Linked DNA regions of Homo sapiens. The protein of the gene in region 3 interacts with the protein of the main gene of each other region in a biochemical or structural test. Each region holds a gene or a part of one and is shown on either strand. Other genes may lie near its edges.

Region 1 (8,420 bases), on a different chromosome or scaffold from region 3:
GCGGAGGTTGTAGTGAGCTGAGATCACACCACTGCACTCCAGCCTGGGAGACAGAGCAAGACTCCATCTCAAAACAAACAAACAAACAAACAAAAAACCTTTGTTATTAAGTGTACTCCTCATATGACATTACACAATGTGAGCTTACACATCCCACAGAAAGCAGAGGCTCCCAGCTGTGCACAATCAGGATGAAAATAGTCTGGCTGCCTGGTCCAATCCTAGAGTCTGATTTAATTGTTTGAGGCTAGACTGGACATAGGGAGTTTTAAAGGATCCCCACGAGGCTGTTAAGGGCATCGCAGTTAAAGAACCACTGATCTAAAGAGCATGCGGATGACAGGGAACGTGACATCTGTAAAATCCGTAGGCACTGTTGAAACACCTGAAATCAACAAAAGACTCTCTTGGCTTTCACAGTTATTTTTAACCTTTCCAAAACATTTTTATATAATTGACAGTTCACTTCTGGCCTTCAGTGTATGTTTGCCTGTCCATTAATAAGTTGATCTGGCATTTTTCCTGTAACATTTTTGTTTTTCCTTCCACACACTGAAGTTCTGCCCTCAGCCAAAGCCCACTGCTCATGGACAGGTCTTGCTCCTGCCCCAGGGGCCTCAGTGGTGGTAGGCAGGGAATAGGCCGTTGGCAAGTTGAAGCTCAGGAAGGAAGGGAGGGCTCAGTAACTGATTCAGGGGCCAGCCACTCTGGCTTCACCTGGGAGCTTGTTACATGTGCAGAATCTCAGGGCGTAGACCTACTCATCAGAATCCGCACTTTAGCAAGATTCCCAGGTGATTTGTGTGCACATTACACTTGAGAAGCACTGCCTAGAGTGTTGTGATTAACTAGGCTGCAAGCTAAAATCACCCAGGAAGCTTTAAAGCTCCCAACGCCTAAACTGTAGCCCAGACCAACTGAATCGGGGACCCAGGTGATTTTAGTGTGTAGCCCCAGGGAACAAGCCCTGGTAGAGAACATCGTCAGTTTACTTTCCCTCCACAACAGATCTAGCAACTAGCAGGACTCAAGTAGGTCTTTAGGCCAGTGTAAAAGATCATTCAAACATTCAGTCAGCAAAAATGTAATAACACCGGCCGGGCGCAGTGGCTCATGCCTGTAATCCCAGCACTTTGGGAGGCCGAGGCAGCCGGATCACCTGAGGTCGGGAGCTCGAGACCAGCCTGACCAACGTGGAGACACCCCATCTCTACTAAACATACAAAATTAGTGGGGCATGGTGGCACAGGCCTGTAATCCCAGCAGTAATCCCTCAGGAGGCTGAGGCAGGAGAATCGCTTGAACCCGGGTGGCGGAGGTTGTGGTGAGCTGAGATTGCGCCATTGCACTCCAGCCTGGGAGACAAGAGCGAAACTCCGTCTCGAAAATATATGTACACCTACTGTGTGCCAGGTACTGAAAATACAGAGGCAAACAGAGACACAACCCTGACTTCCTAGCATTTACAGCATAATGAAGACAGACCTCTGTCAGTAAATGCCAGTACAGTCTGTGCTACAGAGGGTACATTTGGGATGCTATGGTAGGGTACAATGGGAGGCCTTGACATTTCTGGTTTGTAAAAACAAAAATCATGCCATCTTTCTCCTGTCCAAGCTGAGAGATGCTTAAATGGTATTACCAATGCCTTGATTTCAGACCTGAGTTTCAAACCTGGCCTGGGGGACTAAAACTTACATTTCTCTGTTGAATGATGGGTAAGTTCAGCTTGGAGAGAGCAGCTGAAAGACAAAGTGGCGCCTCAGCAACAGTCTGTTACTCTAAAGTCCAAAGTCTACGTTACACTTTGGGCCAGGCAGGAGTTTGGTACAAGCTAAGTAAATAGTTTTTCAGTGTCTCTGATCTTACATTACAGGGGAAAACTGGAAGTTCATCTTGGGTGACTTCTCATCTCCTGCAGAAATTTTCTTACAGAGAATTACAGCACTTTGGCCACCCCCTGTTTAATATGTTCCCTAATGGCCACAGCAGGAAAGAGCAATTAGCAAATTCCTGAATATTTCCTTCACATCATTTCCCAAAGCTTCTTTATGTTAGGTAAGAGGTCCAGCCTTCATTACAGGCTTTTAGCAAATTAAAGCTATTTGCATTTTAGAAGCATATTTGAATTCCACATACATTGCATCTCACACCAAGACATCACGTTCATTAGACAGCTTCATCTCTAATCAAAGCAGAAGGCCTTGAACAAATAATTAGCCTTGAGGCTAGAATTACACATTAAAATAATAAATTGATTTGCTAAGGCCACAAAGAAATGCCACTGGGGCATTCTAGTGTTGCTCCACCCTATATTAATGGCTTCAGGTCAAATGCTGCTAACGTAAACTTGGTGACACTCATGTTGTTTTGGAAATGTTGATGTCACGGCAACCAAATACAAAGCATGGTTCCTGGGCCATTGTTATCCAAACTTGTTTAAGCATAAAAATGGCCTGGGGTGCTTAGTAAAAAGGCACCTTCCTAGGCTCCTGCCCGCTCTGATTGAGCAAAGCAAGGGCCCAGAAATATGACTTTTTAATTAAGTACTTGGGGTGGGTCTTCAATTGGGAAAGTTTGAAAAACGATGCTCACAGCAGCAAGGTACAGCTAGTTGAAGAGGCCCAAACATTCCAGGGGAATTTTGGAGGGGGGGTTTTGAAAGTCTGATCTGGAACATGAAAATGGTCCCCCTGCCCTGCGTCTTTCCTTGGTCTTTAGGAGCTAACACATGGTTGCTTCTATTGGCTGCAGCATAGGCCAGAGGCAGCTGCTGTGCCTGGGCAGGGCTCTGCTTCGGAAATCCAAGATCCTGGTCCTGGATGAGGCCACTGCTGCGGTGGATCTAGAGACAGACAACCTCATTCAGACGACCATCCAAAACGAGTTCGCCCACTGCACAGTGATCACCATCGCCCACAGGCTGCACACCATCATGGACAGTGACAAGTGAGTGTAGGGGGACAGGGCTTGACACGGATGGCTTAACCCTTGCTCAACAGTAACAGTGTCAGCCGGGAAACACCTGATGGCAGAAGGTTTAACCACCACCACATTACTGATGAAGAAACTGAGACTTAGAGATGTCAAGTAATCTGGCCAAAATTTTACATCACGCAAATGAAAACGAACAAGGTTAAGGGAACTATTCATATCTTGAGGGCAAAATAGGAAACTGTGTGTTGTAACAATTAACTGGGTATGGGGAGGTGGAAGCTCAAGCCGTGAGAGGCAGATGTTGACCATAGACCTTCCTAACTGTCCTGAGCCTCAGCTGCTGCTCTGTAAAACAGCCAGAAGCTTTCTATTCCTTCCAGCTGTGTCATATTACAATCAAAAGTCAGTAATCTTAGAAAGCTGTTTGGAGATGATAGGCACCCTTTGTAAACCAATCTATCCTTAAACAATGTGCACTTCTTTTAAAAACTCATGTAAATGGACTCATACTGCCTGTATTCTTCTATTACTTGATTCTTTTGTTCAATATTATTTGCAGAATTCATCCATGTTGATGTGTGTAGCTGTGGCTCATTGATTTTCACTGCTTTGTAGCCTTGTCTGACTATACCACAACTTAGTCCTGGTTATTCTTATAAATGCCTAGACTTGAGATGCTGCTTTCTAAGACTTTTATTTCTTTCTTCCTTGTTTCAGGGTAATGGTCCTAGACAACGGGAAGATTATAGAGTGCGGCAGCCCTGAAGAACTGCTACAAATCCCTGGACCCTTTTACTTTATGGCTAAGGAAGCTGGCATTGAGAATGTGAACAGCACAAAATTCTAGCAGAAGGCCCCATGGGTTAGAAAAGGACTATAAGAATAATTTCTTATTTAATTTTATTTTTTATAAAATACAGAATACATACAAAAGTGTGTATAAAATGTACGTTTTAAAAAAGGATAAGTGAACACCCATGAACCTACTACCCAGGTTAAGAAAATAAATGTCACCAGGTACTTGAGAAACCCCTCGATTGTCTACCTCGATCGTACTTCCTTGCTACCCACCCCTCCCAGGGACAACCACTGTCCTGAATTTCACGATAATTATTCCTTTGCCTTTCATTTCTGTTTTATCACCTTTGTATGTATCTTTAAACAACATATACCCTTTTTTACTTATGTAAATGGACTGACTCATACTGCATACATCTTCTATGACTTGATTCTTTTGTTCAATATTATATCTGAGATTCATCCATGGTGATGCAAATAGGTGCATTATTTTTTTTCACTGCTCTGTAGTCTGGCATTGTATGAATACAGCACAATGTATCAGTTTTAATATTGGGGATCATTAGCATTATTCTCAGGTTTTTAAAAATTATAAGCAGTACTACTATGGACATTCTGGTCTACATCTCCTGGCACATATGTAAGAGTTTCTCTAGGGTATAACCTAGGAATGGAGGGTATGAACATGTTTACATGCACAAACTAGCTGATGCCAAACTGGTAATGCCAACTGAAAACATTGCTGTCAATCTGATGAATATGAATTGATGTATCAATGAGAATTTCATTTGCATTTCCCTAGTATCTATTGGGGATGAATATATTTTCATGTTTCTGGGGCATTTGCATTTCCACTTGTTTTTTAAATATTGTGTCTGATAATTCCAATGTCTGGATTCTTTGTTTATCTGTTGTTTCTGTTGGTTTTTACTCATGGTATTTTATTTCCTTGTATGTCTTGTGAATTTTTATTATAAGCTCGTTCTCCTTAAAACTTTATCTGTGGACATTCTTTGAGGCCTAAGTTGACCGTGAATTCTTCCTAAGGGAATTGGGAATGCTTTAGCCTGCTGCCTGGGGCATTACCCAGAACCTCTTTGAATGAAATTCTTCACTAAGGGGTTTCAAACCACAGTGCAACTTCAGACCACAATCCTGTACAAGAGCCAGCTTGTGATTTACAAATTCTCCAGGGAAAGTGACAGGTTGGAGATAGGCATGGGGTTTTGTTGTTGTTCTTGTTGACTCCTGCATTCTGCATGGCAGGACCTAGGCCTCTTTACCTGTACATTGCAGGTATAACCCTTTCATGACACAGGTTCATCAGAGGGTTTTAGTCTGCACTGTGGCAGACCTTGGCTTTATCTCTTGCCTTGACCTCCTACATTATCAACAAAGTGAGAGTTTAAGATCTCCTGGGCAGGAGATTTCAGAAGCCAGCCTAAGTTTTGGGCCTTCCTCACCTCCTAGGGCCTTTGTGTCAGGTTCTTTTGGGTTCTTCATATTCCTTACCTCCCTTTCAGTGATGTTATGATAAAGATTTTGATTTATTCAGCATTTCACGGTCTGTTTAGTGAGGTGCTTAACATTGAACTTCTGAAATGAAGGGCATATAGCTAGTGTAAGCATACCTCTGGTTTGCCCTGAATAGTTATGGGTTACATCTGTTTTCCCAAAACAATAATAGCTCCCCCTTTCACACACGCACAAAAATTGTCTCATTTGTATGATAAACTTGTGTGCCTCCTACACATAGCCCTGTGAATTCGATTTTGAATCACAGCATGGATGGAGATCAACAAAGTTGTATAGATATTGAAGTGTTGGCTGGGGGGGCGCTATTCATGGAGAATCCCCTCCTTAATTCTGCAAACCAGATCTAGTACATTGTGAATATTCTATAATCATTGGCTATTTTTTACAGCTAGCTTTTCAGATCTATACCTGCTTATGTACATGAAATGTAGCTCCTGTAAATTGCAGATTAGTGTATATTAATCTAAGATGCCATCAACTGTAAAATACCTGTTATTTTCTATACCACGAAGAAAGGATACTGCCAATTAAACTTTGGTATGCATTGTTGGTAAAATGCATCCTATTTGTGGAAAAAAATTAGCATTTTAAGATTAATACAATACAATACCTGTAAAGCTCTATAAGAGCTAAGTCATGTCCTTTATTTCTGCTATTGATCCTTGTTCTTTTTTCCTGATTGTTCCAGTCTGTATTGCTCTTTTAATCCAATATCATCGTCATCATCATCAGCATCATCATCATCATCATCACTTCCCTTATCTCTTTTTCTCAACTATTTCACTGCTAGGTAGCTAACTACTGTTTTTACCATCTATTCTTTCTAATCATTAGAATTTCAAAAAACTGCTTTTTCCTTTTTTTTAGTGGTGTTTTTAAAATTTATTTATTTATTTTTTAGTGTTTATTTTGAAAGCACATTCCATACACGCGTACTTTCCAACTTGCTTCTTAAATGAGTTTTTAGATATAGAGCATTTAGAGGGGCAGGAGGAACTTTGGAAAACAAAGGAACTATTTACGCTGACTGCAGAAGCCAGAGAAATGCAAGCTAGGTAAAGCACCAACAGTAAAAGTGAAACTAAAGGAGAAGCCTGATATTTTCTCAATTTGTTTCTCAAACAAAATGGTCCAGGCTGATGTCGATATAGTTATCACCAGAGAACTTTGAAGATTATCAGCCATCACTTATTTATTTAGCTTCCAGTAAATGTCTGACACTGTGCCAAAAATTTTTTAAAAGCTATCTAGGGCGGGTGCTGTGGCTCACACCTGTAATCCCAGCACTTTGGGAGGCTGAGGTGGGTGGATCACCTGAGGTCAGGAGTTCGAGACCAGCCTGGCCAACATGATGAAACCCCGTCTCTACTAAAAATACAAAAATTAGCCAAGCATGGTGGCACATGCCTGTAATCACAGCTACTCTGGAGGCTGAGGCAGGAAAATCACTTGAACCCGGGAGGCGGAGGTTGTAGTGAGCCGGGATCACGCCATTGCACTCCAGCCTGAGCAACAGAGCAAGACTCCATCTCAAAAAAAAAAAACAAAAACAAAAGCTACCTAATATAAACTAAATAAAGATTACTTTCCATTGTGGCCTAATTAATAACCCTTTCACAAGCTTTATTTCACTTACCGATTTCAGGGACAATTTTAGATAACTACCTAAAACCTATACATTCCCAAATTCCACCATATCTTCACTGTTTTTCACTGATCTTTTGGGCACTTTCTGTGCCCTTCCCAATTCTTCTGGGTGCATGGAATCATAGTGTTCAGAAGTAAAGGTGCCTATGCCCATCGTTAGGCTACTATCTCTCAGTTTCAAACCTACCCTTTTAGATTTTGCTCTGTGATGCTGGGACTTATAAGTCTCATTTCTGCTTTGCCAACTATTCCTATTAAGTTCTGACAATAGGAGGTGCTGGAGGGACACTGGACGCAGCCTGGATGAGGAAGAAAACGTGCTCCTTCTCGTTGGCTCTGTTGCTATTAGCATCACTCTAACAGTTTCTCTGCAGCAGCAGTTCTCACAAGTAGCCACATTGATTTTAGTTTGCAGTTTTTCAACATTCACAGAAAGTGTCGTCAGGCCCAAAACCAACACCAGCTGAGCAGCGTCCCCTTTTTCAGAAGCAATAAACAGACTGAAAGAAAACAAACTAATTTTACATTGATACATTGGCACAAACAGGAAGAATAAGTCTATAAAAATATAAAGAATAAACCTATAAGAATAAACCATCAGGCCTACATTTCTGGCAGAATAATTTTGCATAAGCACTTTTGGAAACATCCTCAGAATAAATTTGTCCTGTTTATATAATAGAATGAGAATACATTTAACCACAAATGCATACCGATCATGAATTTATTTTAGAATTAGCAAACAATATTGTACAAACATTGGTATTTAAATCTCTAAGCTCCTGCAACTTAGATTTAGTTAGCAAAGACTATATTCTACTCTGAGTTTGGTCTTCCACATGGACTAGACACTAGACTGGTTTTTTGAAAGGTTTCATATTGTTCGAAAATACCATAAGTAGGCCAGGCACAGTGACTCACACCTGCAATCCCAGCACTTTGGGAGGCCTAGGCAGGCCGGAATGCTTGAGCGCAGGAGTTCGAGACCAGCCTGAGCAACAAAGTAAGACCCCGTTTCTATAAATAAATAAAAAAAAATACAGAAAGTTAGCCAGGTGTAGTAGTGCATGCCTGTAGTCCCAGCTACTCAGGAGGCTGAAGTGGAAGGATCGCTTGAGCCCAGGAAGTCGAGGTTGCAGTGAGCTGAGATCACACCACTCCATTCCAGCCTGGGTGACAGAGTGGGACTCTGTCTCCAAAAAAAAAAAAAAGAAAACATCATAAGTAAAAGATTGTAAAAATGCATAAAACAATTGGCTGTAAAAAGCACTCCATTGTCATAGCCCTCCTTTTAATTTCATATGCAAGTAGTTAGTTATGCTGTAGAATTTAACTGTTACAATATAAAAAGCAACTATTTATGGAAAAAGTAGAAAAAAGGAGAAAATGGCCAGGTGCAGTGGCTCACACCTGTAATCCCAACACTTTGGGAGGCTAGGCAGGAGGATCATTTGAGCTCAGGAGTTCAAGACCAGACTGGGAATATATGTATGGCAGTGTTT
Region 2 (10,965 bases), on a different chromosome or scaffold from region 3:
TCATACCCAGACTCAGGAAACTTTTAACTCATTCTTGTCTAATATATAGTATATTTTCTGCATAAACTATAAGTTAAGTATACTTTAATGCAGATAAGGCATTTAAAACATAATTTTGACAGTTAAAAATATCATGAATACAGAGCCAGTAAATAAAATGAAATAAATGAAATAACAAAATCTCCTCAAGTTCTAAATAGTCTGTTCATTCTTCCTCTTTTCCAGGTGGAAGCTCCCTCTTGGGATAAAGGATCCACAGTGGAAAAAAAAAAAGGTAGTTTTATACTGAGCCCCCACATCTGATTCAGGGAAGCAAGTCTGTGTTCCAGACAGGGAAGCCAAGGCTAAATACTTTTCTGTTTCATTGAGGTCTCAGGAAAATGCAGGGTTTCAGGATAATCCCCTTCTTGCAGTCTAGGAAGGGAGGTTTCTAAACCTTCTCATGTATAGTCCCTTACTTCTTATGCAATATATGCCACTTGTAAGGCATTTGCCAATTTAAATTGGCTGTAACTAACAAAGCCAAGATCTCTAATTTCCTCCCTGTCCCTGCCACACCCAGAAGCTTACACAGTAGGAGGGGTTGGCAGGTTGAATTTCTGGTCCTTCATCCCAGTCAGCCAGTAGGTAGTCTCATTTCCTCTTCCCTGGTAAGACAAAAGAGTTACGTACCACGGAGTCCAAGGAGTCAGTTCAGTTGTAGACCACTGTTTCCATAATGATCTGTTTCTGTGACATGTTTCACTTCCGCATTTCTCATCAGTGCCAATATTTAAGCACATCACACATTCCTGTTATGATTTGCATTATCTCTAGACAGATTTTTATTTCCAAGTGCCTTTTTAAAAATAAGTTTCTCATTCAGCAGACATCCTTTTCTCAAAGTAGAGTTTTCTTTTTTTTCCCCAAAAGACATTTTAAAATATCACTCTAGCAACATCACAAGAACTCTAACTTAAAAAGGAAGAAAATTCATCTACAATTCTGCTACGTCAACAAATCCAACTGGTTGTCATTGTCCATATTTCCTTCTAGCCCTTTTTGCAATAAAGTTTTGCTACAAAACTTTTGCTACAGTTTCCCTATCTTATTACAAACACATGTACATCACAATTAAGAACTCATTAAGTGGCATTTCTGGGGCCCATCTGGAGGCTACGGAATGTATGGAAATTTACTGGAATACTGGAAACCCTGTTTTTGCTAAAGCTGGTATTTGAAAAAGAGATACAAAATACATATGGCCCAAACACAGCCAGTGAACCACTATTTTTAAAAAATGAGTTTAATAATATATATCTATAATATATATCAATAATTTAAAAATGAGTGATTGATATATATATATATATAATTGATATATATTGTTAAACTCATTTAAAAAAGTAGTGGTTCACTGGCTGTGTTTGGACCATAGCAATCCATAAACTGGTTCTATTTTGGGGTAAGTGTTCTTTGTAAAAAATGTACTTATGGAGGACTCAAAAAGCAAGTGTGATGTTAGGACACTTTTACGTAAAAGGAGACTTTTCCAAGGTGCAATCCAAATGTAAAGGCCAGAAGCATTATGGCTACCGGAGACAGGTAACTTACAGTTAATAGCTGGCTTTGCCAGTTGTGAAAAGATTCCAATAACTTTGGAAAAGCAGCCTGAGAAGCATTTGGAGACAACTGATGGCTATGGAGGGCAGCTGTTTTAAATGTGAGGAACTGCATGAAGAATCTGGAATAGCGATTCTCAAATATTAGTGTGGTCACAAACACATTATCTTGTTAAAAATATAGATTTCTGATCTACGCCCACAGAGAATCTTGCATAGTAGGCCTGGTAGAGTGTCCACACATCTGCATTTTAACAAGCTTCCAGATGAGGAAGAGGAGGAGAATGGGGCCACACCTTGTCATTCACTCCTTGTGATTCTAGAGCTTCCGAATAGTAAAGCAACTGGCAAGAGAGGTGACCTCAGATCATAGCAGCAGTGTGTAGTAAGAGTAGGGAAGTAAGTGGGGGGACAAGGGTTTTGATTCAAATTAAATAAGTCCTGGACCAGACTGTATGTAGCTCTTGTGTTTGGAGGAGGAACTGGATACAAAACCTGGATATGGCAGAGGAAATGCTGGCAGAGTTCAAAATCTCAAAAGGGCTCTTTGGAGTAAAGGCAAGTTTTGAGTTCACATTTTTTGGTGGTCATTTCTCTTGCAGAGGATGGAGGGTGCTCATCGTGATGAGTACAGAAGAGGATTAGCATGCTCAACTTTCCTGGCCAAGTCTCAAAGGAGGTGGCCCAAGCGTGTCTGAGAGCTTTTCCTATGCATTGTCTCTGTGGACTCCTTACCTTTAAGTATGTTTCTCCTCTCACTTCATAAAGGAACTGGCACTCAGTTCTCTTCAGGATGGCTATGGTGGAGCCACTCACGTGAATTCTCAAAGCTGGAAATGCAAATTGACAAATAAAAATCCCAGCTAGTACACAGCCTATTTGTTTCCCGTTGATTCAGGATATCAACAACACCTGAGACAAGAATCCTAAATCAAGAAGAAACAATTGTGGCTATTTTAATGAAAGAACACTTAAAAATAACATCAGAGAGATAAGAAATGGTATAGTTTGGATATTTGTCCCCACCCAAATCTCATGTTGAATTTTAATCCCCAGTGCTGGAGTCCTGGCCCCCGACCAGGTGTCTGGGTCACAGGGGTGGATCCCTCATGGCTTGGTGCTGTCTTTGCGATACTGAGTTGTCACAAGATCTGGTCATTTAAAAAGGTGTGGCACCTGCCCCTGCCACTCTCTTTCTTACTCCTGCTTTTGCTGTATGAAGTGCCTGCTCCTGCTTTGTCTTCTGCCATGAGTGAAAGCTTCCTGAGGCCTCCCCAGAAGCAGATGCAGGTGCTATTCTTCCCTTACAGCCTGCAGAACCATGAGCCAATTAAACCTCTTTTCTTATAAATAACCCAGTCTCAGGTTTTTCTTTATAGCAATGCAAGAATGCCCTCACACAAGAAATATAATCTCACGTGGGAAGAAAGAAGGCCTGGCATCAGTTTTCAGGGCCCTGCGTGATGTGATGGGGATCCCTAGGTTTTTCTCCATAGATTCTCATTCCAGCTCAGAGTAGTAGCCTGCGGGACCTAGTTTTAGATTTGGCTTGTAGTGCCAAGCTTGGGTGTTGGAGTTTGGTTTTGGGTCCCTGTGGAAAAGTTCCAATAAATAGCTAAAGCCTTGTGGGCAAGGTGAAGATTCGGGAGAGTTGAGGGGTCTTGATTTTCTCAAATTTCCTTCTTCTGGAACATTGTTATCCTTTGACAAAAGAAGTGGTGAGGGCACGCCCATTCACAAGTCCATTGATGTGTATCACCTTTCCCAATATAGGGGCCTAATAGCAATACCACAAACAATTACACAGTAAGAATAATGACAATCCCAAATTGTATACCTACCATGTACCATGATTGCTAAACGCTTAACATGACATCATCCCAAATTATTTCAGAAACCCTCTTGGCACGGTTGGTATTCCATTTTCAATTTGTATCTTTATCTTTCTGAGGGCTAGAAGGATCAGGTAGCTTTCTACTCAACTTATACTGAGAATGATTAACATAATTTCAATTGTAACCCAAGTCTGTCTGACCCCAACCTTATCCTTTTCCTTGCCAGCATGATTTGCCAGGACAAACTAGTATCACATTGTCAGTACACTACCAAAATACCATCCTGCCTCCTGTGGTTTCGTAAGCCCCAGCCATGTCTCCCAGTGCTTATTTTCTCTCTTCTATATATTTCTACTGCTACCACTGTCATCAATATTTATTGAGCATCTACTTCATGCAGCACATTGTGCCTCTACCTTGCCAAGCAAATGCAATATATTCCTTCGTATATAACAAATGCTTAGATTTTTCTTTACTAAAATCAATTCTTGGTTGGGTATGATGGCTCTTGCCTGTAATTCCAACACTTTGGGGCTTTGGGGGACCAAGGCAGGAGACTTGCTTGAGCCCAGGAATCTGTGACCAGCCTAGACAACATAGAGAGACCACACCTCTACAGAAAAAATTAAAAAATTAGCTGTGCATGGTGGCATGCCTGTAGTCCCAGCTACTTAGGAGGCTGAGGTGGGAGGATCACTAGAGCTGAGGAGTTCAAGGATGCAGTGAGCTGTGATTGTGCCACTGTGCCAAAGCCTAGGCGACAGAGTGAGACCCCATCTCAAACAAATAAACAAAAATCAATTTCCAGAAAAAACGAATATGCTTTGGGAGGCCAAGGTGGAAGGACTCCTTGAGGTCAGGAGTTTGAGACCAGCCTGGGCAACATAGTGAGACCCAGTCTCTATTAAAAATTTAAAAATTATCTGGATGTGCTGGTATGTTCCTGTAGTCCCAGGTACTTGGGAGGATGAGGTGGGAGGATCACTTGAGCCCAGGAGTTCAAGTTTACAGGGAGCTATGATCGTGTCACTGCACTCCAGCCTGGGTGACAGAACGAGAGCCTGTCTCTAAAAAACAACAACAAAAAAGCAAAACCAAATAAGAGGGAAACAGGAATGTGAACCAGAGTGTGTAGTTCTTACCTTGCCTACTGATTTTTTTTTAACTTTCATGAATCTATGGTAAATGCCAGGACTATTCTAAGTAGAATATCCCCAGATTCATTGTATATGAGCCAAAAATATAGAAATAGTCTAAAACTGAGCAAAAGTGGAAGAATAAAATAATTATCAGTAAACAACAATGAAAGCAAATGTAGCAAAAGGTGGATTGACACGGGTTTGTGTTCAGCTAATGTGAAGAATTATTCTACATCTCACTGGCACTTTGTATCTCCTTATTGTGCATTTTATCTCACAGTTGCCCTCTGCTGGAAAACAGCATCTTTGTCCTCTGAGAAAAACAGTCTCCCTTCTTACGGAGGCCAGTGGATTCCATCCTAGAGGCTGTGTTGACCGTATCTCCAAATAGACAATAACGAGGCATCTTGATTCCCACAACTCCAGCAGCACAGGGACCTGAAATGAAGGACAGAAAGCAGGAAGTGGAGGCAATAGAAATTGCAGAGTAGAGTGAAGACAGGTAAGCCTCTCTGTATGGTCACAATCCTGAATACTTCCTGTCATGGAGAAGTAGCTGAGGATGTGAAATGTGAGCTGGGACTTTTGGTTTAAATGGATGAATCCAATGAAGCATCATTATTCAATGCATGCGATCATAAAGTATTTTGCTCTCGCAAAGAAAACGACATTTGTAGCAAATAGGAAGGCATTCAGAGATCCAGATCACAAAGGTGATTTTAAATAGAAGGCTCTCAGGAAGGATGAAGATGAGCCCCACTGCTTGCTTACTGTGCCAAACCACACAACCCTGAATTTCACACTGCTGGAGGGCACTGTAGATTTGAAGCTTCAATGGCTCAAGTTTGTTTTATTTTTATTTTAAGGTGGCATTTCTGGGATTGGTGCCATGACAATGGAAGACAGAAGACAAGACAAAGGCATAACTTTCCGTAAGCATTTCATGGACCAGGCGAATGCAGCTGGATGGGGAAGCCTGTGGCACAAGGAGGTTCCAACAAGCAGAACAAAAGCCCAGGCTAGACTATGCGCTGTGGCATATTAGGTAGGAAATAAGGGTTATTCAGTCATGTATTTGCATAGAATGACTGAGTGCAAGGTGTTAACAGTTTCAGAAGTTAAAGATTAACTCAAAAACTGCAAAGCTGAGTTTTAAGCAATGCCTGGCTAAAGATTCATCTAGATGACTTCTGAGTTCCTCTCTTACAGGTGTTTTTTCTATAACACCTGTAACTCATCTCAAACCTTGATGTTCAAGGCTGTTGAATTAAACTAAGTTTGGCCTGAGGCTGCCTCTTAGGGGTCCCTACAAAACAAACTGCAACCTAGCTTGGTACATAAACAAACTAAAAGCCTAACTAGGGTATACTTACGTTATAGATAGCTGAGTCTCAGCCAATCGCAGTAGCTGAGCTTCAGCCAGTCACAGGCTGTCAACTGATGGGACTTTGACCAAATCAGGGGAACACAGAGGTTTGACCAATCAAGTTGTTTCTGTCCCTCACTTCTGTTTTCTGTCTATAAACATTGCCCGCCCACCTTGCCCATTGAAGCTCTCTGAACCTCTTCTGGTTTTAAGGGCCATCTGATTTGAAAATTATTCTTTGCTCAATCAAACTGTGTTAAATTTAATATGCATAAGCTTTTCTTTTAACAAGGCTATGTAACTTTCATGGTCTTTGAAAGTGACTCATGTACTTTCTGTATAACTGCAGTGGCAGGGAAGGGAGGGGGTATAAATATTATAGAAATTTCACCATCTGTTCTTTATTTCCCCTTGTAGATAATCTAATCCACTTAAGATACTATAATATTTTAGTGGGAAAATATATTGAAGTTGGGGGTGGGGAGAAAGGGAATGGGGAGGAAATAAATGAAATCATAGGTATGGTGATTTAAATAGGAGTCCAAAGCTTCTTGTTTTCGTACATGTTTGGTGTTTATCATGTCAGCAGTCAGTGGTGCCCTCAAAGGTCTTGTTCTTAGAGTTCTCTAGGAACTGGGTCTAAATATCTCAGGATGCATAGTGGGACCTCACATTTGGCAAAAAGAATTAAGAGTAAAAATTATGTGAGGTCGATCACACTTGAAGACCTTTTATCCTTTCTGATTTAGTTGGTGCACAGCAGTACATATGGTTCCCAATTTGCTAAGATGCTCAACTCCATACCAGAGTGAACTCCAATGCGAATCCATATTGGGAGGCCAGGAAGATGCTCCAGCTCAAAGGTCCCCATGAAGCTGAGGATTTCCAAGGCCATCTTGGCAATGTCTATTGCATGCCGATTGCCATTTCTCTTAGGCAAACCACTAGCCACCATGTACGCATCACCGATGGTTTCCACCTGTGGAAACAGTTTCTCATGAGTGCCTCTGCCCCTTTGAAAAGTATAGAAAGTAAACAGAAGCAGTTAATCACATGTCAAACACAAAAAGTGATTTGGGAACACAGTATGAGCATAGCCCTTTACACTTTTTCTGGGGCCAGTTGGATCAGTTCTATGCTGATTTCTTCAGGGTTTTTATAGTCCAGTTAATGGGTGATAAAATAGCTATAAAGGAATTTAGCCATTTAAAAGTACTTCATAATTATATAAATTGTCCAGATGTGGTGACAGTTCTAGAAATGTTCAAATAAATAATCTGAATGGTTTTATGTAATTTGAGGAACACCCTTAGTTTCCTGAAAATTAATCCTTTAGCAAATGTCAACATACTATTTAACAGAATATTGTACTTTGTAATATGTAATTGTATACATTCTTGTAGTATGATTTTCTATTTATTATAACCCCAGTGTCTTCTCTGCTTCATTTGCAGTCAGCCTAAACACTGCCCATTTTTTGGAGGTGATTTAAGAGTATGCCATTTTGTCTAAATTTAATACTTCAAATTAATTCCTGCTGAACTTCCTGTTGTATCTTTTTTGCTGCTTCTTAAAGTTGAATGGTAATTTTGACTTCTCACTCCTCTAATCCTTCTACTTCTCTTCACTTTTAGCTCAGATTCAACCACCAATTCACTAAATGTGAAACTAGAGCGGTCAAGAGTAGTAACAGAAACAACCAATTCAGGCTCTGATGACCTTGAGTTGTACAATTAATGGTTTCAGCCTGTTAGGTGATGTGGTTACCTTGTAGACATCATGATGATCAACAATGTGGTCAAAACTCTTATAGATGTCATTAAGCATGTCCACCACTTCCATGGGGGTGCTGTATTTGCAGATAGTAGTGAAACCTACAATGTCACTGAAGTAGATTGTAACTTCCTCATATAGTTCCGGCTCCACAAAGCCTTTCTCCTTCAGAGACTTTACCACTAGCCTAGATGAACGAAGGGAAAAAAAATGCCTTCAACTTCAGCAAATTTCTTCTTGTTTCACATAAATCTTTCAGGTAGTAGTGATTGTCTACCAAGAATTCTAGAATTTGAGACTTCCAGTGAATTGAGTGAATCGGAAACAGAGGTTGTGTATATCATATACATGAACATATTACACAAATACACATATAATGCATGTTGTGAACACAGATGAATACAAGCAGGTTCAACATTAACTTAGTGTTTGATTATTAATCCTAATACACATAAATAGATAACTTTAATATCCTCAAAACTCTCATACATATACATACTTGTCCACTTTTTGCTTCTCTATTGATAATCAACCTCTTACAGATGTGGCTCTACATGCAGAAGCTGAGGAGAGTGTGGTATTACTTAAATCACCACAGGTATCAGATCTGAATTTCTCAACAAAGTTGATAGTTTTACTTTCCTGGCATATGTAATATGGCATTGCTTAATATTACTATGAAATAATGATGCATTTAAATATAAATTTTGATATATTCTGAACCAGAGTTCATTTGATATTTTGAACCAGATTTGGGTCCTTTGTAAAGCAGAATCAATCATGTAAATAAATTAAATCATGCTAAAACTGTAGAAGTCAAATTAAAGCAACTTTTAGAATATCTTTGCTGAATGAGGAGCAGCATATCAGATTCAAGATTGAAGGAAGAGAACCAGAAGAAGGGACTCCATACTTGGTGTGCCAAGTTACCTCTTCATTGAGAAAAGGAAGTGAGGGCTGACATGAAGTGGGATGGTCCCTGTCTGTCCTTGGCATCACTTTGTAGTGGCCCTCAGTATGGAACCACTAGAATCAGAAACTGGAAGCTGGGAGGTTCCACGGAAGTCATTGAAAAGAAATCTTTATTTTTACAGATGAGAAAGTTGAGGTCTAAAAAAGTATGACTTCCCTAAGTTCCCACAGCCGATTAGGGACAGAGCCAGGGCTAGAATTCAGGAAGCCTTCAGTCCCACCCATCAGTCTTTTTTTGCATTACACTCCCTGCACAACCCAGGCCTTGGATATTCAGGAAGATGGGGAAGATTTGGAGGTATGCTGACTGCAACAAAGGAGGTGGGCTCTCCCGGAAAGAAAACAACCAATCAACCACAAAGATTTCTAACACTCATTTGGAGAACCTCCAGAGTATCCGGAGAAACCTTTTTAATTGGTGCAATGACAAAACTTGGAACCTTTGAAAAACATTCCTTTGGTGTGGCTTGGATTCCTAGGTACACGACTGGAGTGGTTGTTCTTGACATGCCCTGTATAAAGTGCATAGTATTTTGGAGGCTGCATAGATGCAATGACAAAATTGGATATTCTGCCATATTTGCAATTCATTGTACTGCTTATATCTGAAAAGTCACATGAGTTTGGTGATATGGTTTGGCTCCGTGTCCCCACCCAAATCTCATGCTGAATTGTAATCCCCAATGTTAAGGGAGGGACCTGGTGGGAGGTGATGGGATCATGGGTGCAGATTTCCCCATTGCTGTTCCTGTGTTAGTGAGTTCTCATGAGATCTAGTTGTTTGAACGTGTGTGGCACCTCCCCCTTTGCTCTCTCTCTCTCTTCCTGCCATGCGAAGAAGGTGCTTGCTTCCCCTTCACTCTTCCACCATGGTTGTACATTTCCTGAGGCCTCCCCAGCCATGCTTCTTGAACACCCTGTGGAACTGTGAGTTATTTAAACCTCCTTTCCTCATAAATTACCTAGTCTCGGGTAGTTCTTTATAATAGGGTGAGAATGGACTATTACACTTGGAAAATAGTGTGTTATCCAGAGAGAGAAACTCATGTTGTAAATAAACGAAGGAAGGGCTGGGAGTTAACATGATGAGCTTTGATAACAGGTTGTTGCTGACATAGATAAAATTAGTATACAGAGTAGATCTCTTAGAAAGTCTTCCCAGAAGAAAAAACTTCTGGCCAGGCACAGTGGCTCACACCTGTAATCCCAGCACTTTGGGAGGCCGAGGTGGGTGAATCACCTGAGGTCAGGAGTTCGAGACCAGTCTGGCCAACATGGTGAAACCCCCTCTCTACTAAAAATGCAAAAATTAGCTGGGTGTGGTGGCAGGCGCCTGTAATCCCAGCTACTTGGGAGGCTGAGGCAGGAGAATTGCTTGAACCCAGGAGGCAGAGGTTGCAGTGAGCTGAGCTCATGTCGTTGCACTCCAGCCTGGGCAACAAGAGTGAAACTCCATCTCAAAAATAAATAAATTAATTAATTAAATAAAATAAAAATAAAAAAGAAGAAACTTCTATTTTAATGTATTTACCCCAAGGGGTACTATTCAAATAAATGTCTAAGTGATATCTGGTTCCTACATGCAATCTTAAGTTTATTTGCCCTTTGCTACACATATTTCTTTTTGATTCTTCTAGTTATTGCTCATGCATGTTTTAGTTTTATCTTGCGCATAAAATTTTTACATAAATAACCAAAGTGAGTTGTGCTGAAGCCATGGTGTATTGTAGCTCTTCAAGAGACTTGTGTGATATAACCTTTGGAAATCCAATAAAAACATCTACCAACTAGTAGTCCAAGTGGCATATTGAACTAAGGCTAGGAAAAAAGCTGAAATGGTGAGCCAGCTGATTCAAACCACTTGAGTGACATTAATGGTTAAAACCACCGCCAATGAAACCCTGGGAAGGCAGCCAGATAACCAGGATATTGTTTTTGTCACAACTCAGCATTAAAGATCAGGCAAGGAGTTATGCATTATGTACCTAATATTTATGGAGCTGTGATAGAAATTATCATCCTTGAAGTGAATATGAAGGGTTCCCTACTGTTCCCAGGCACTCTGAGGGCTCATGGGTTCTGCCCTTCTATCACAAGGTTGCAAGACACCACTTGCCAAATGTGTTCCAACTCCTTTCCCCCAAGCTGTGATCCGCCTCCTAGTTTTCTTGCAGGTGATTTGACTTTCAGAGGTTTGAGATTTTGAGGTCAGAGTTACTAAAGGAGATCAGGGGCTCCAGCTCGGGCTTCTTGGGTAGAATCCCAGCTCTGCCATTCAC
Region 3 (11,888 bases):
CATTTGAGGTCTCCTTTCCAGATACCTTTGGAGAGACTGGTCAAGGATAGAGTGTCACCATCCTGCTCTCTTTCATCCTGCCTGCCCCCAGAGGCATGCCAAAGGGAGGCTGCAGCTGCCCGGGAAGAGGCTGAACAAGCTCTCGGAGAGCGGGACCAGGCCCTGGCTCAGCTTCGGGCCCACATGGCAGACATGGAGGCGAAGTATGAGGAAATCTTACACGTAAGCACCACCCCCTGGATCCCAGCCATCCCAGTACCCAGGACTCCCCCATGCCCACAAACCCCAGCTCGTATGATGACTGACAACCCAGGGTTAAGGAGAAGGAGCGTCTCCAAGGGAGCCCTGCTCTATCCTGAGGGCAGACAGAGGGGATACGACCATGTCTACTGGGCAAGGAAAGCTTATGAACCAACCTGGGGCAGCACTCACTCCTTCCCTCTCTCTCTTTCTGGGGTCTGAAATATTGATGTCTGCAGGACAGTCTGGACAGGCTCTTGGCCAAGCTGAGAGCCATCAAGCAGCAGTGGGATGGGGCAGCACTGAGACTTCACGCCAGGCACAAGGAGCAGCAACGCCAGTTTGGACTCACCCCCCCTGGATCTTTGAGGCCACCAGCCCCTAGTCTCTAGTGTTCTCTGAGGCCCCAGCAATAAAGTGTCTTGATGTAGAACTCAATAGAGCTGTGGGCTCTGGCCGTTTGGCAGAGAGAAGTGGATCTTATTTTTATTTTTATTTTTATTTAGTTTTCTTCTTTTTTTGTTTTTGTTGTTGTTTATTTTTAGGAGTGGCTGTCATACAGACATCTCAGTTCTGGGTTGACCCATTATCCCTGAGATTCAGTGATTGATAGGAAATAAATTTGACCAGGTCTCAACCTCTCTCCTGCAGGAGCCGCATCCCACCCCTTGAGCCTGAGGCCCTTTTGGTCCCTTCACACCACTGCCCCTTACCCCCACCAACACAAACACAGGCAGTCAGATTTATGGCGAATGGCCATTTCTATAACAAATGCAACGGTGACCAAGCACCACCCTCCCGCAATGCTAAGGCACCCACAGAGGGCAGGCATAGCTGGTCTCCAAATTTTTGCATTACACTCAAGGGTCCTGGAGTCATATCTAGAAAAGGTCCAGATGGCTTCAATCCTAGCCAGACCCACAGCCACACCTTCATCCTTGGGACACAGCTCTCTAAAACTCCCATATGACATCCTCTGGAGCCTCAGACTCCTTCAGGGACCTGTCTGAGGCCTCCAACCACACCCTCTGCTGGCAGGTGGGCCTGCAGGAAGGGAGGGAGCACCTGGGCCAGCCTGTGATCGGTGGTGTCTGAGTCCCTCTGGTCTGGCTTAGAGAGAGCATCCTGCCTTCACCACCTCAGGCTGGAGAGTGAAGACACGGTAGCCCCTGAGTATGTCTGTACCAAGCAGGGGTGCTCTACAGTAGATCCGAGGCCAGAGCCCAGTCCTATACAGAGAGAGGAGGTAGAAGGTCATTCCAGGTGGGACCCAGAAGAGTTCCTTTTTCTTGCCCCGCCCTGCACTGGAATGCCCAGAAATGGGGTTTATTTCACGAGTCCTTCTGTCCCCACCTACCACGACCTGAAGTCCCAACCTGCATACCCCACACGGCTTCACCTTGTACCTCGCCCACTCTGCCCTTCTTTCTCACTCCTCCCTGCCCTCTGTAGCTACTCACAGTCCCATCTGTTTCTTCTTCCTCACCTCTGCAGCCCCAGGGGGAATCCAGGCTTCCAAGCCCCGCAGAGACCTGGCTGCCAGCTTCAGGCAGAGGGGTGGCTCAGCCTCAGGCAGCTGCTGAAGCCTCTCCAGGTCATTCTGTCCCCCAACAGGATACCCGTTCACTTCCAGAATCACGTCTCCCACTTGCAGCCCAGCCCGGGCAGCTGAGCCTCCTGGAGTCACCTGGTGTTGTGGGGGCATGCAGAACAGGGGACACCGGGGGAAAGTTTGCTGGCTTTAGGCTCTGGGAGGGAAGCAGAGGAAGACCGATCAGGCAGCAAAGGATCGAAGGGATTCAAGATCCATGGGGCATCAGTCACCTGGGAGATGAAGAGACGAGGCCCACTGGCCACACAACTGAGTCGGAAGCCATAGCTGCCACCAGGCCCAGGGTACAGGAAGCACTGTCGGGAGCCAAGAGGGACAGAAGGCACGCTTGTGTCTTCAAGTGAAGGGTCCTCTGTCTCAACCAGTGAGGCTGAGCTGCTGCCCCGGGGCGAGGCGGGAGCCTCTGTGTTCTCCAAGAAGAGGAGTGGGGACAGGCGAACCTGGAAGGTGGCAGGGAGAGCAAATCTTTCGGACCTCAGCCCTGCCCCACTCCTGCCCCAACCCTAGCCCCTGCCCCTCAGCACGCACCATGCTGAAGAAGCGGTCCGCCTCAGGGTCGACGACAGTGAGGGAGACACAGGAGCCCTGCCCCTGGATCCTGGACACTGTCTCCTCATGGCCCAGCCCCTCCACGCTCTCCCCAGCCACAGCCACCAGCCGGTCCCCAGCCTGCATCCCAGCCTTCTTGGCTGGCAGTCCCGGGTCCACCTCCCACAGGAACTGTCCTGGGGCATAGACATCCTCACTGCTCCTCTCCAGCTATCCTAGGCCACTGTGTACACACCAGGGGACTGACCCCAGAGTGAACGGGAAGAGGCGGCCCAGGGCCAGAGCTCAGACAGGGACACCTCTTCGGTGCACTGAAAGGTGTATATACGCTTGTGTGCCCACCCCAAGGCCCACCTTCCCCCACCGCCCCCAGGGCTCCCACTCACCAGGGCGACCGTCAAGGCCCTTTTCCTCCCGGAGCAGGAACCCAAAACCCTGGGGCCCTTTCTCCAGGTGCAGGCAGCGGGGCTTGGTGGGCAGTGCCCAGCCCTCTGCCAGGGGTGCAGCCAGGGGCAATCCCAGCTGGCGACACTGTTCTTCCACCTCTGGCCCTGCCACCAGCAAGGTCACCTGCTGTCCACTCTGCCAAAGCTGTGGGGACCCAGCAGGGCATCAGTATAACACCTGGGCAGGGAGAGAAGAGGTATGCTCCCCCCACAGCCCCTCCTCCCAGGCACTAAGTGGAGCCTGGCACAAACTGTAGAGGGGGAGGATGGTGATAAAGGTAGGAGACCAGATAAGGAGGTTAGGCGCATGGGGAAGGAGGCGTCTTCCCGAGGTGGGGCCCAGGCCCGGATTGGGGGAGGAGAGTGGGAGACAGGCAGTCACACCTTCCTGGTGAGTTGGTTGTGAGTGAACTTCTCCACACTGACCCCATTCACTTCCAGCAGCCGGGCCCCGGGGGGCACCCCTGCCCGCTCAGCTGCTCCTCCAGTACTTAGCACCAACCAGAAAGGACCCTGATTGCCTAGAAATTAAAAAAAAAAGCAAGGTCCAGTCTGTTTCCTGCCTGCCCTGAACAGGGGCTGAGATCCCTCATCCTTGCCGCCCCCTCGCACCCTCTGGGCTCACCATGGGTGACACTGAAGCCAAAACCACCCTCATCTTTCACTATGTGGCACAGCCGGGGCCGGACCCCTGGGCCTAGGGTGGGACAGAGGTGGGCATCTTCTCCCAGCTGAGCTCGGGCCACGTCATGTGCATGCCGTGCCAATACTGTCAGCAACACCCGAGGGCTGCTGGCCCGGATGCGGCGTACCACCTGGACAGAGGGCACGTGGGCGTGGGTTTGGTCTAGACCCTCTTGCCAACCCCCAGGACCTCCCTGGAATCCACATTTTTTTGCCAAGGGAATCGGCTTTTTTTCTTTTTCTTTTTTTTTTTTTTTTTTGAGATGGAGTTTTGCTCTTGTCGCCCAGGTTGGAGTGCAATGGTGCGATCTCAGCTCACCGCAACCTCCGCCTCCCATGTTCAAGTGATTCTCCTGCCTCAGCCCTCCCGAGTAGCTGGGATTACAGGCGCCTGCCACCACGCCCAGCTAATTTCTGTATTTTTAGTAGAGACAGGGTCTTGCCATGTTGGCCAGGCTGGTCTTGAACTCCTGACCTTGGGTGATCCACCTGCCTTGGCCTCCCAAAGTGCTGGGATTACAGGCGTGAGCCACTGCGCCCAGCGGGAATCGGCTTTCTAGATGCTTTCCCTACCCCTCTGACTTGGGCACTTCTAAATCCTGGGGTGTGGGGGAGTGAGGCTTGTGCCCTGCTGCCATACTGCCCAGGGGACTGAGCAACCCGCTTCTCTTTCTGAGGTGCTAGCATGCTCTCCTGGACCACAGCCTTACCACCGCATAGTCTTCGTGTTCCACAACATCATTGTTCACCGCCAGGATCCTGTCTCCTTCCTGAAGACCCTGGCGCTGGGCAGAGGTGCCTGGGTCCACCCTGCACACCACATGCCCAGCCCTGCCCAGCTCCTGCTGCAGGTGGAAGCCAAAACTCTTGCCCTCCTCTTTGCTCAGTAAACAGAAGCGAGGCCGCTCCAGGCTCCAGGGATCTGGAGGGTGAGGTGGGCAGCAGAAAAGGGGGAGGAGAGGGCACAGCCCAAGTACAGGTTCGCCGTGTGCCTGGCAGACCCTGTGTCCTGATAGGGTGCTGGGCAGTTTCTGCCTGGTTGGGTGTTGGGTGGTGGGGTTCGTGGGCAGAGGGACTGGGACAGGAGAAAACACCCGGCCCCTCCTATCTCTACTCCCAACCAAGGCTGTTATCAGAGGGAGACCGAGTGAGTGGTTACCAAGGAGATCGGAGGCCGTGTGGAGCCGTGGTGCCTCCAGGGATAGGGAATGGTTGCCAGGGGGTGAGGGAGTTACCATAGGGGTCGTGGTCTTCGGCCAGGGAGAGGACAGGATTATCAATGCCCAGCTTTGGGTTAAACTTAAACTTCCTGCAAGGAGGCAGGGGAAGCAGGTACAAGCTGGCAGCTGGACTTGGGTCCCAGGATCTCCTTTAGGTGCTAATGGCAGTGAAGCGCTTCGCTGCCTCCAATTATTTCCTCCCCTTGCCCCAACCCTCGTGGCACTTACAGAGTTAACGAGGCTGTGTCCTGCAGATCTACTGGGCAAAGAAGTGGGTGAGAGGAGGAGAGTCACATTCTTCTCCCCAGATGTGCCTCTTCCATTGGCATAAACTAAAAGGACTCAGGGAAACCCCCAAACTCAGGGCATGCCCCCTCCTTTCTGCTCCAAAGGGGTCTTCTCTTCTCACTGCCATACACACAGGACTATTGTGCGGTCCCCTCCCTTTCTCTCCCCCCAAGTCCTTGGCACATAAATCTGAGCATATCAGTACAGGGTGTGGACCAGGAAGACAGACATATCAACTCATTACTTTTCTCCTGACTTGTTTACCTGCCTCAGGGCTCCAAGCCCCAAAATCAAGTGTGCCCTGGTCCCAAAGCTTCAGCCTCCAAGTCGGCCCCCTGCCTGTCCCAAAGTCCCCTGCAGAGGATTTCTCCTGGCCTCCTACCTGCGGCTTTCTCCATAGCTGGATCAGCAACCCAGTGCCCGGGGTAGGGACAAGGTTCATCACAGCCACTGATCCTCCCACCCATCCCCTCCCAGGTCCCGCCTCCTTGAAGACGCTGTGGAAGCAGTGGGGTAATGGTTAACGGGAGTGAGAGTCTTTTTTTTTTTTTTTTTTTTTTTTTTTTTTTGAGACCGAGTTTAGCTCTTGTTGCCCAGGCTGGAGTGCAATGGCATGATCTTGGCTCATCATAACCTCTGCCTCCCAGGTTCAAGCAATTCTCCTGCCTCAGCCTCCCGAGTAGCTGGGATTACAGGCATGCACCACCACACCTGGCTAATTTTGTATTTTTAGTAGAGATGGGGTTTCTCCATATTAGTCAGGCTGGTCTCAAACTCCCCACCTCAGGTGATCTGCCCTCATCGGCCTCCCAAAGTGCTGGGATTACAGGCGTCAGCCACCGTGCCCCGCTGAGAGTCTTATCCTCTGGAAAACTGTGTGGGTTCCTCCTGAATCTATCCCTGGGCCCCAACTTTTTCTGGAGACCCTGAATCTGACCCAGTTGCCCCTCTGTGCAGAGAAAGGCAGATTGCTGGTCACTAACTCCAAGCCTGGGGGGTAAGTGTGAAAAGGGTGATAATTCTATGGCCCATAGTATGGTTTGGCTGTGTCCCTACCCAAATCTCATCTTGAATTGCAGCTCCCATAACTCCCTCGTGTCATGGGAGGTACCCGGTGGGAGGTAATTAAATCACAGGGGCAGGTTTTCCCGTGCTGTTTTCATGATAGTGAATAAGTCTCATGAGATTTGATGGTTTTATAAAGGGGAGTTCCCCGGCACACACTCTCTTGCCTGCTGCTATGTAAGATGTGACTTTGCTCCTCATTTGCCTTCTGCCACGATTGTGAGGCCTCCCCAGCTATGTGGAACTGTGAGTCAATTAAACCTCTTTCGTTTATAAATTTTTTTTTTGACAGAGTTTCACTCTTGTTCTCCAGGCTGGAGTGCAGTGGCACTATCTCGGCTCACGGCAACCTCCACCTCCTGGGTTCAAGCAATACTCTTGCTTCAGCCTCTCGAGTAGCTGGGATTACAAGCATGTGCCATCACACCCAGCTAATTTTGTATTTTTAGTAGAGACGAGGTCTATCCATGTCGGTCAGGCTGGTCTCAAACTCCTGACCTCAGGTGATCCGCTCACCTCGGCCTCCCAAAGTGCTGGGATTACGGGCGTGAGTCACCATGCCCAGCCTCCTTTATAAATTACTTACCCTGTCTTGGGTATGTCTTTATTAGCAGCGTGAGACTGGACTAATACAGCCCAGCATGGCCAACCCCCATGCCAATATCTTGTTCATGGGCCCTTCCAGCCTCCACTGCCTCTGAACCTAGTGCCCAAGAACCACTTGCAATAGATCATGGTTGGTAGTTTAACCAGAAAGACCAAGAACAGTGCCCTTTCTTGGAAGCACCAGGCAGTAAAGAAGAGGCCACAATTGGTAGAAGGCACACGGCTTTTTAATAGCAGCAAGTCAGGTGCATCTGCCTCGAGGGGCTACCAAGCCATCATACCATTGTGGCAAAGGGGGCATGAGGATGAGGAGAAAGCACCAATGTGAGGGCATCCTCGGTGTCCACAGGTGAGCATAAGGCAGGAGGGGAAGCTTCCAACACATCTGGATGGCGACACCCCTGGCATGGCAGACATAAGATGTGAGCCCCTTGGTGACACAGTCAGAGGCTCTTTGAGAGGAGGGGGAGGCAAGGTTGGTAGTGGTGCTTCAGGGCACTCTGGCCATCCAAATGCCACATGCTTTGGTCCTTCTAGCTGAATGGAGAGGAGGCATGTTCCATCTCCAAGCCCGAAGCATTGATTCACCATCTTTAACTTGGAGATTCCAGACTCAGTCCTGGTCAAACATGCCCTAGGAGGGCAACTGGCTCAGCTATGCCCATTCCTCTGCCTCCAGACCTGAAGGAATCTTTCTAGAGGGAGCAGTGCAAGCCAGGAGGCCACAGAGGGAAAAGGTTTAGGGCCAGTGGTCACATAGCTAGGTGCCTGCCGCCAGTGTCTCAGCTTCCAGAGCTTCCCAGCTGCTCCAGGAGGGCCCTGACCTCGCCCTCCACTCGCAGCAGCTGGGCCTTGCGCCAAGGATTAAGGGTGGCACCCCGGCTATCTTCCAGATCCCGCAGTAGGAGCTCAAGGTGTCGCTGAACCCGGGCCCGATCCCAGCTATTGAGGTTCCGCTGGACTTCACTGAGGATCACTGACCAGTATTCTGACACCGCCGTCCCCTCTGTCAGTGACACCACCACCCGGGCACCACCTTCAGCAGCACCCCCCAAGTCTCGCAAGACCTGGCGGCCCTCTGAGCTCAGCTCATTGAAGTAGAGGCTGGCAGGAGAGAGAAAGTCGATGCCATTCAGTAGAGCTCTGAGAAGGAGGGCCCGAGGGTAGATGGATGGAAAGTCAGGGGGCCTCACAACTCATCTCCTGGCTGCAGAGTGCGATCAGGTAACTGCAATGAGCCAGAGGTGGAGGCTGCTGGCCAGTGGGAGGCAGGGACTAATACTAAAATTCTTTTTTTTTTTTGTTTTTGTTTTTGTTTTTGTTTTTGTTTTTTTTGAGATGGAGTCTTGCTCTGTCACCCAGGCTGGAGTGCAGTGGCATGATCTCGGCTTACTGCAACCTCCACCTGCCGGGTTCAGGTGATTCTCCTGCCTCAGCCTCCCAAGTAGCTGGGATTACAGGTGCGCACCACCACACCCAGATAATTTTTGTATTTTTAGTAGAAACGGGGTTTCACCATGTTGGCCAGACTGGTCTTGAACTCCTGACCTCAGGTGATGTGCCCGCCTTGGCCCCCCGAAGTGCTGGGATTACAGACGTGAGCCACCACAGCCGACCCTGATACTAGAATTCAGTGGGACCAGAGACAGTAGGGCTTTAGGAGAAATGGTGGTAGGGAATTGGTGCAGTTTAAGCGCCAGTCACAGAGGGGGTGGGTTGGCTCAGAGCTAGGTTGACAAGGATCAGTCAGAAACCAGGAATAAAGGACAGGCACCAGGCCCAGGCCCAGAAGCACTCCCTAGGATTGGAGGAGCACAGTTGAGAGAGGGAAGTAGTCTGAAGGGCTGGGGGCAATGGGACCAGGGACAGGACTCACTGTAGCAGTTCCAGGGAAGGGTGCTCCCGGGCAGCTCTGGCCAGGGCCAGGGCCGCTGTGTCACCAGCACCGTTGTACGCCACGTTCAGCTCCTGCAGCTGCCGGTTGCGGTCCAGCTGGGCAGCCAGCAGCTCCAGGCCTTCGTCCCCAAGGCCCGTGTGCAGCAGGGACAGGTGCGTCACTGAGGTGTTTCCTGCCAGCCCCTCCATTAGCACGGCAACACCTGCCGCCGTCAGCGGGTTGTTGGACAGCCTACAGCCACGTGCAACCCAAGGTTATGAGGGCTCATTGAGAGGAGGGGGAGGCAAGGTTGGGGGTGGTACTGGCAGCCTTAATGGGGCAGCCCTGTGCTGGGTGTCAGGACTTGGGCCAAAGAGGGCCCTGCATGGGGCAAGAGGAACCTGGACATAGAAATGCAGGCCCAGGAGAAAGGCTGGAGCAATAGGGGGTGTGGCGCCTGGCAGAGGAGTCAGAGTAGGGGAGCTGGCCTTTCCTTCCCTCTTCCCCTGACTCCCTTCTTATCTATTCCCTTCCTTTTCACCATTTCCGTTTCCCTTTTTCTGCCTTTTTCACCCCCTCCACAGCCTCTGCTTCTCCCTCCCCTCTGACTCCCCTATCCTTCTCCCTGCTCTTCCTTTTTCTCTCCTCATTTGCCTCCCCTTACACCAATCAGAAACTGGGAACCCAGGAGCTCAGGTTCCCCACATATCAGTCAACACTTAAGGGGTGTCTACTGAGTGCCCAGCATTAGGGTCCTCCTCGGGAGGCTGCAAGAAAAATCCTGGGAGGGGATCAGTGGCACTGTTACCAGGCAACCGGCCTAGGTATTATTCCACCCTCTCTCCCCACCTCCCCCAGGCTGATTTTAGCCACGTGAGAGGTTTCTTAGCACCCATTACAGGTGGCATGTTTCCCTGCTGCCCTGCTGCTTGCAGTGGACCTGGGGGAAGTGGAGGGGACAGGTCAGGGCCTAGACTCTCCTCCATTTACTATCCCTTGGGTGGGTCTGTGCCAAGTATGTCAGGAAGCAGGGAGCTCACCCTTGACCTTAGCTGGCCACCAGGATGCCCCACTCCCAGGTCACTCACCGCAGTGTGGTAATTTGGCACTGGTCATGCAGCAACAGGTCTCGGAGGTCCTTGCAGGCCTCAGGGCCCAGGCTGTTGAGTTGCAAGCTGGAGCAGAAGGTGGCCAGAGGGGAGGTGAGAGACCAGGGAGGGAATTCAGCAGGCAGTCTGTCCATCTACCATGCCTTTTTTTCATCAGCCTGCCTCTGGGAATCTATACCTGCTTCCCCTTTTTTGAGAGACAGGGTCTCACTCTGTTGCCCAGGTTGGAGCACAATGGCATGATCACAACTCACTGCAGCCTCAGACTCCTGGGCTCAAGCAATCCTCCCACCTCAGCCTCCCGAGTAGCTGGGATGATAGCTACATGCCACCACACCTGACTAATTTTTTAATTTTTTGTAGAGACAGGGTCTTGCTATGTTGCCCAGGATGGTCTCAGACTATTAGGCTCAAGTGATGCTTCTGCCTTGGCCTCCCAAAGCAGTGGGATTACAGGCAGGAGCCACCATGCCTGGCTCCTCCCTTCTGTTGCTCCTGTCACCTCCACCCAAACTAGACTTTTTTTTTTTTTTTTGAGACGGAGTTTTGCTGTTGTTGCCCAGGCTGGAGTGCGATGGCATGATCTCAGCTCACCGCAACCTCCGCCTCCCAGGTTCAAGCAATTCTCCTGCCTCAGCCTCCCAAGTAGCTGGGATTACAGGCATGCACCACCATGCCTGGCTAATTTTGTATTTTTAGTAGAGACAGGGTTTCTCCATGTTGAGGCTGGTCTCGAACTCCTGACCTCAGGTGATACGCCCGCCTTGGGCTCCCAAAGTGCTGGGATTACAGGTGTGAGCCACTGCTCCCGGCCCCTAAACTAGACTTCTTCATCCCACCTTCTGGTCACTCATCGGTACCTCTGGTTTCCCTGGCACTTTCTTTTCCCACTTCTTCACCTCCAACCCTCTTCCCTCTTCATGCCTGTGCATGAGGATAGGTCCTCACCCCAGCTTCCGGGCACGCAGGAAGACAGGCAGGAGTGTGCGCAGCCCAGCAGGATCTAGCTGGCAGGAGGCCAAGTTCACCTCATCCAGGGCATGCCTTCCGCTGCCCAGCACAGCTGCCACCACTGTGCACTTGACTGGTGTCATGCGCACACCTGCCAGGTTGAGCTGACGCAGGGAGCTGAGCACCTCAGCGGAGAAGCGCTGGTTCTGGAACTCATAGTGGAAGAAGAGGTGGTCAAGGAGCTCTGATGGGGGCAGCACCTGCCGGCCCAGCTTGCCCAGCTTCTTCTTGATGGCCTGGGCATTCTCCAGGGCATCCAGGTTCTTGATGGGGCAGCCAAGCTGAGCTAGCACAGCTCGGTTGTGGGCAGAGAGAAGCCCCCCCATGAACATGGGGAAGAGCTCGAAGACTTCATCCTCAGGGGGCTCATCTGGGTGGCGCCGGGGGCCCTCCACGCCCAGGATACTGGCGCCCATCTGGTCCAGAACATCATCGTTGTAGTAGTCCTCCTCTCGAAACATCTCCAGCACCATGGCCTGAGCCACCGCCTCCCGGCTTTTACCCACCATGCGCCCAAACACTCGTGGAACCACCTGAAAAAGAAGCAGGGGAGAGTCACTGTGGCCTTCCATGTGCCTGTTCAGCCTTCAAGGTTCAGCTTAAGGTACACTCCCATGACTGCTCCAGCCCTGTGATCTCCCCTTGAACTTAGCATAATTTGTCTGATCATGCTACTCCCCTGCTGCGACACCTTCCATGGCTCCCTACTGCCTATGTGGCAAACTCCAAACATTTAGCCTGGAATATGAAACGTTTCTTAAAACTAGAGATGGGGTCTTGCTGTGTCACCTAAGCTGGTCTTGAACTTCTGGGCTCCCTAGCTTAGGCCCCCCAAAGTGCTAGGATTATAGGCATAAGCCACTGCACCTGGCCCAAAACTTTTCATAATTTGGCCCTAATTTGACCTTTCCAGGGTCATCTCTCAACACCTGTCTCATGTGCTGCAGACATTAGGAACTTCTTTCTCTTTCCCAAACACCCTGATACATTTTCAAACCCAGGAGGTGGTGAGAAGGAATTAGCATGTATTACACACTTAGTTTGGGACCGGGCTAGGTATCACAAATACATCACCATCTTCAACATGCAGTTCCTACTGCTTTAAGGGCCTGTGTGATCTGGGCCCTGCCGACTACGATGCCTTCATCACAAGCCTCTTGGCCCCACTCGCTATGCTCCTGC

What was found.
Region 1: the proteins of NHERF4 (region 3) and ABCC2 form a complex in vitro, tested with the Homo sapiens proteins (one study listed by BioGRID).
Region 2: the proteins of NHERF4 (region 3) and GUCY2C form a complex in vitro, tested with the Homo sapiens proteins (one study listed by BioGRID and IntAct).

Annotation. Positions count from the first base shown.
Region 1 is NC_000010.11:99,847,848-99,856,267, forward strand, and holds the end of ABCC2 (ATP-binding cassette sub-family C member 2), read left to right. Parts: intron 1-2,754; coding exon 2,755-2,949; intron 2,950-3,654; coding exon 3,655-3,784; 3' UTR 3,785-4,747; downstream 4,748-8,420. UniProt on the Homo sapiens protein: ATP-dependent transporter of the ATP-binding cassette (ABC) family that binds and hydrolyzes ATP to enable active transport of various substrates including many drugs, toxicants and endogenous compound across cell membranes.
Region 2 is NC_000012.12:14,614,297-14,625,261, forward strand, and holds part of GUCY2C (guanylyl cyclase C precursor), read right to left. Parts: intron 7,902-10,965; coding exon 7,709-7,901; intron 6,921-7,708; coding exon 6,746-6,920; intron 5,460-6,745; exon of another isoform or gene 5,442-5,459; intron 5,078-5,441; exon of another isoform or gene 5,014-5,077; coding exon 4,915-5,013; exon of another isoform or gene 4,856-4,914; intron 2,432-4,855; coding exon 2,337-2,431; intron 648-2,336; coding exon 571-647; intron 275-570; exon of another isoform or gene 226-274; intron 1-225.
Region 3 is NC_000011.10:119,179,044-119,190,931, reverse strand, and holds NHERF4 (Na(+)/H(+) exchange regulatory cofactor NHE-RF4), read right to left. Parts: upstream 5,458-11,888; 5' UTR 5,438-5,457; coding exon 5,422-5,437; exon of another isoform or gene 5,304-5,421; intron 5,297-5,303; exon of another isoform or gene 5,011-5,296; coding exon of another isoform or gene 5,008-5,010; coding exon 4,980-5,007; intron 4,841-4,979; coding exon 4,767-4,840; coding exon of another isoform or gene 4,454-4,766; coding exon 4,242-4,453; intron 3,663-4,241; coding exon 3,473-3,662; intron 3,369-3,472; coding exon 3,232-3,368; intron 3,026-3,231; coding exon of another isoform or gene 3,014-3,025; exon of another isoform or gene 2,993-3,013; coding exon 2,788-2,992; intron 2,644-2,787; coding exon of another isoform or gene 2,612-2,643; exon of another isoform or gene 2,578-2,611; coding exon 2,381-2,577; intron 2,293-2,380; coding exon 2,065-2,292; intron 1,928-2,064; coding exon 1,727-1,927; intron 1,470-1,726; coding exon 1,440-1,469; 3' UTR 719-1,439; downstream 1-718. Other genes in the region: DRC12 (dynein regulatory complex protein 12), read left to right, coding at 92-222, 480-632; NLRX1 (NLR family member X1 isoform 1 precursor), read right to left, coding at 7,493-7,814, 8,587-8,838, 9,675-9,761, 10,644-11,239.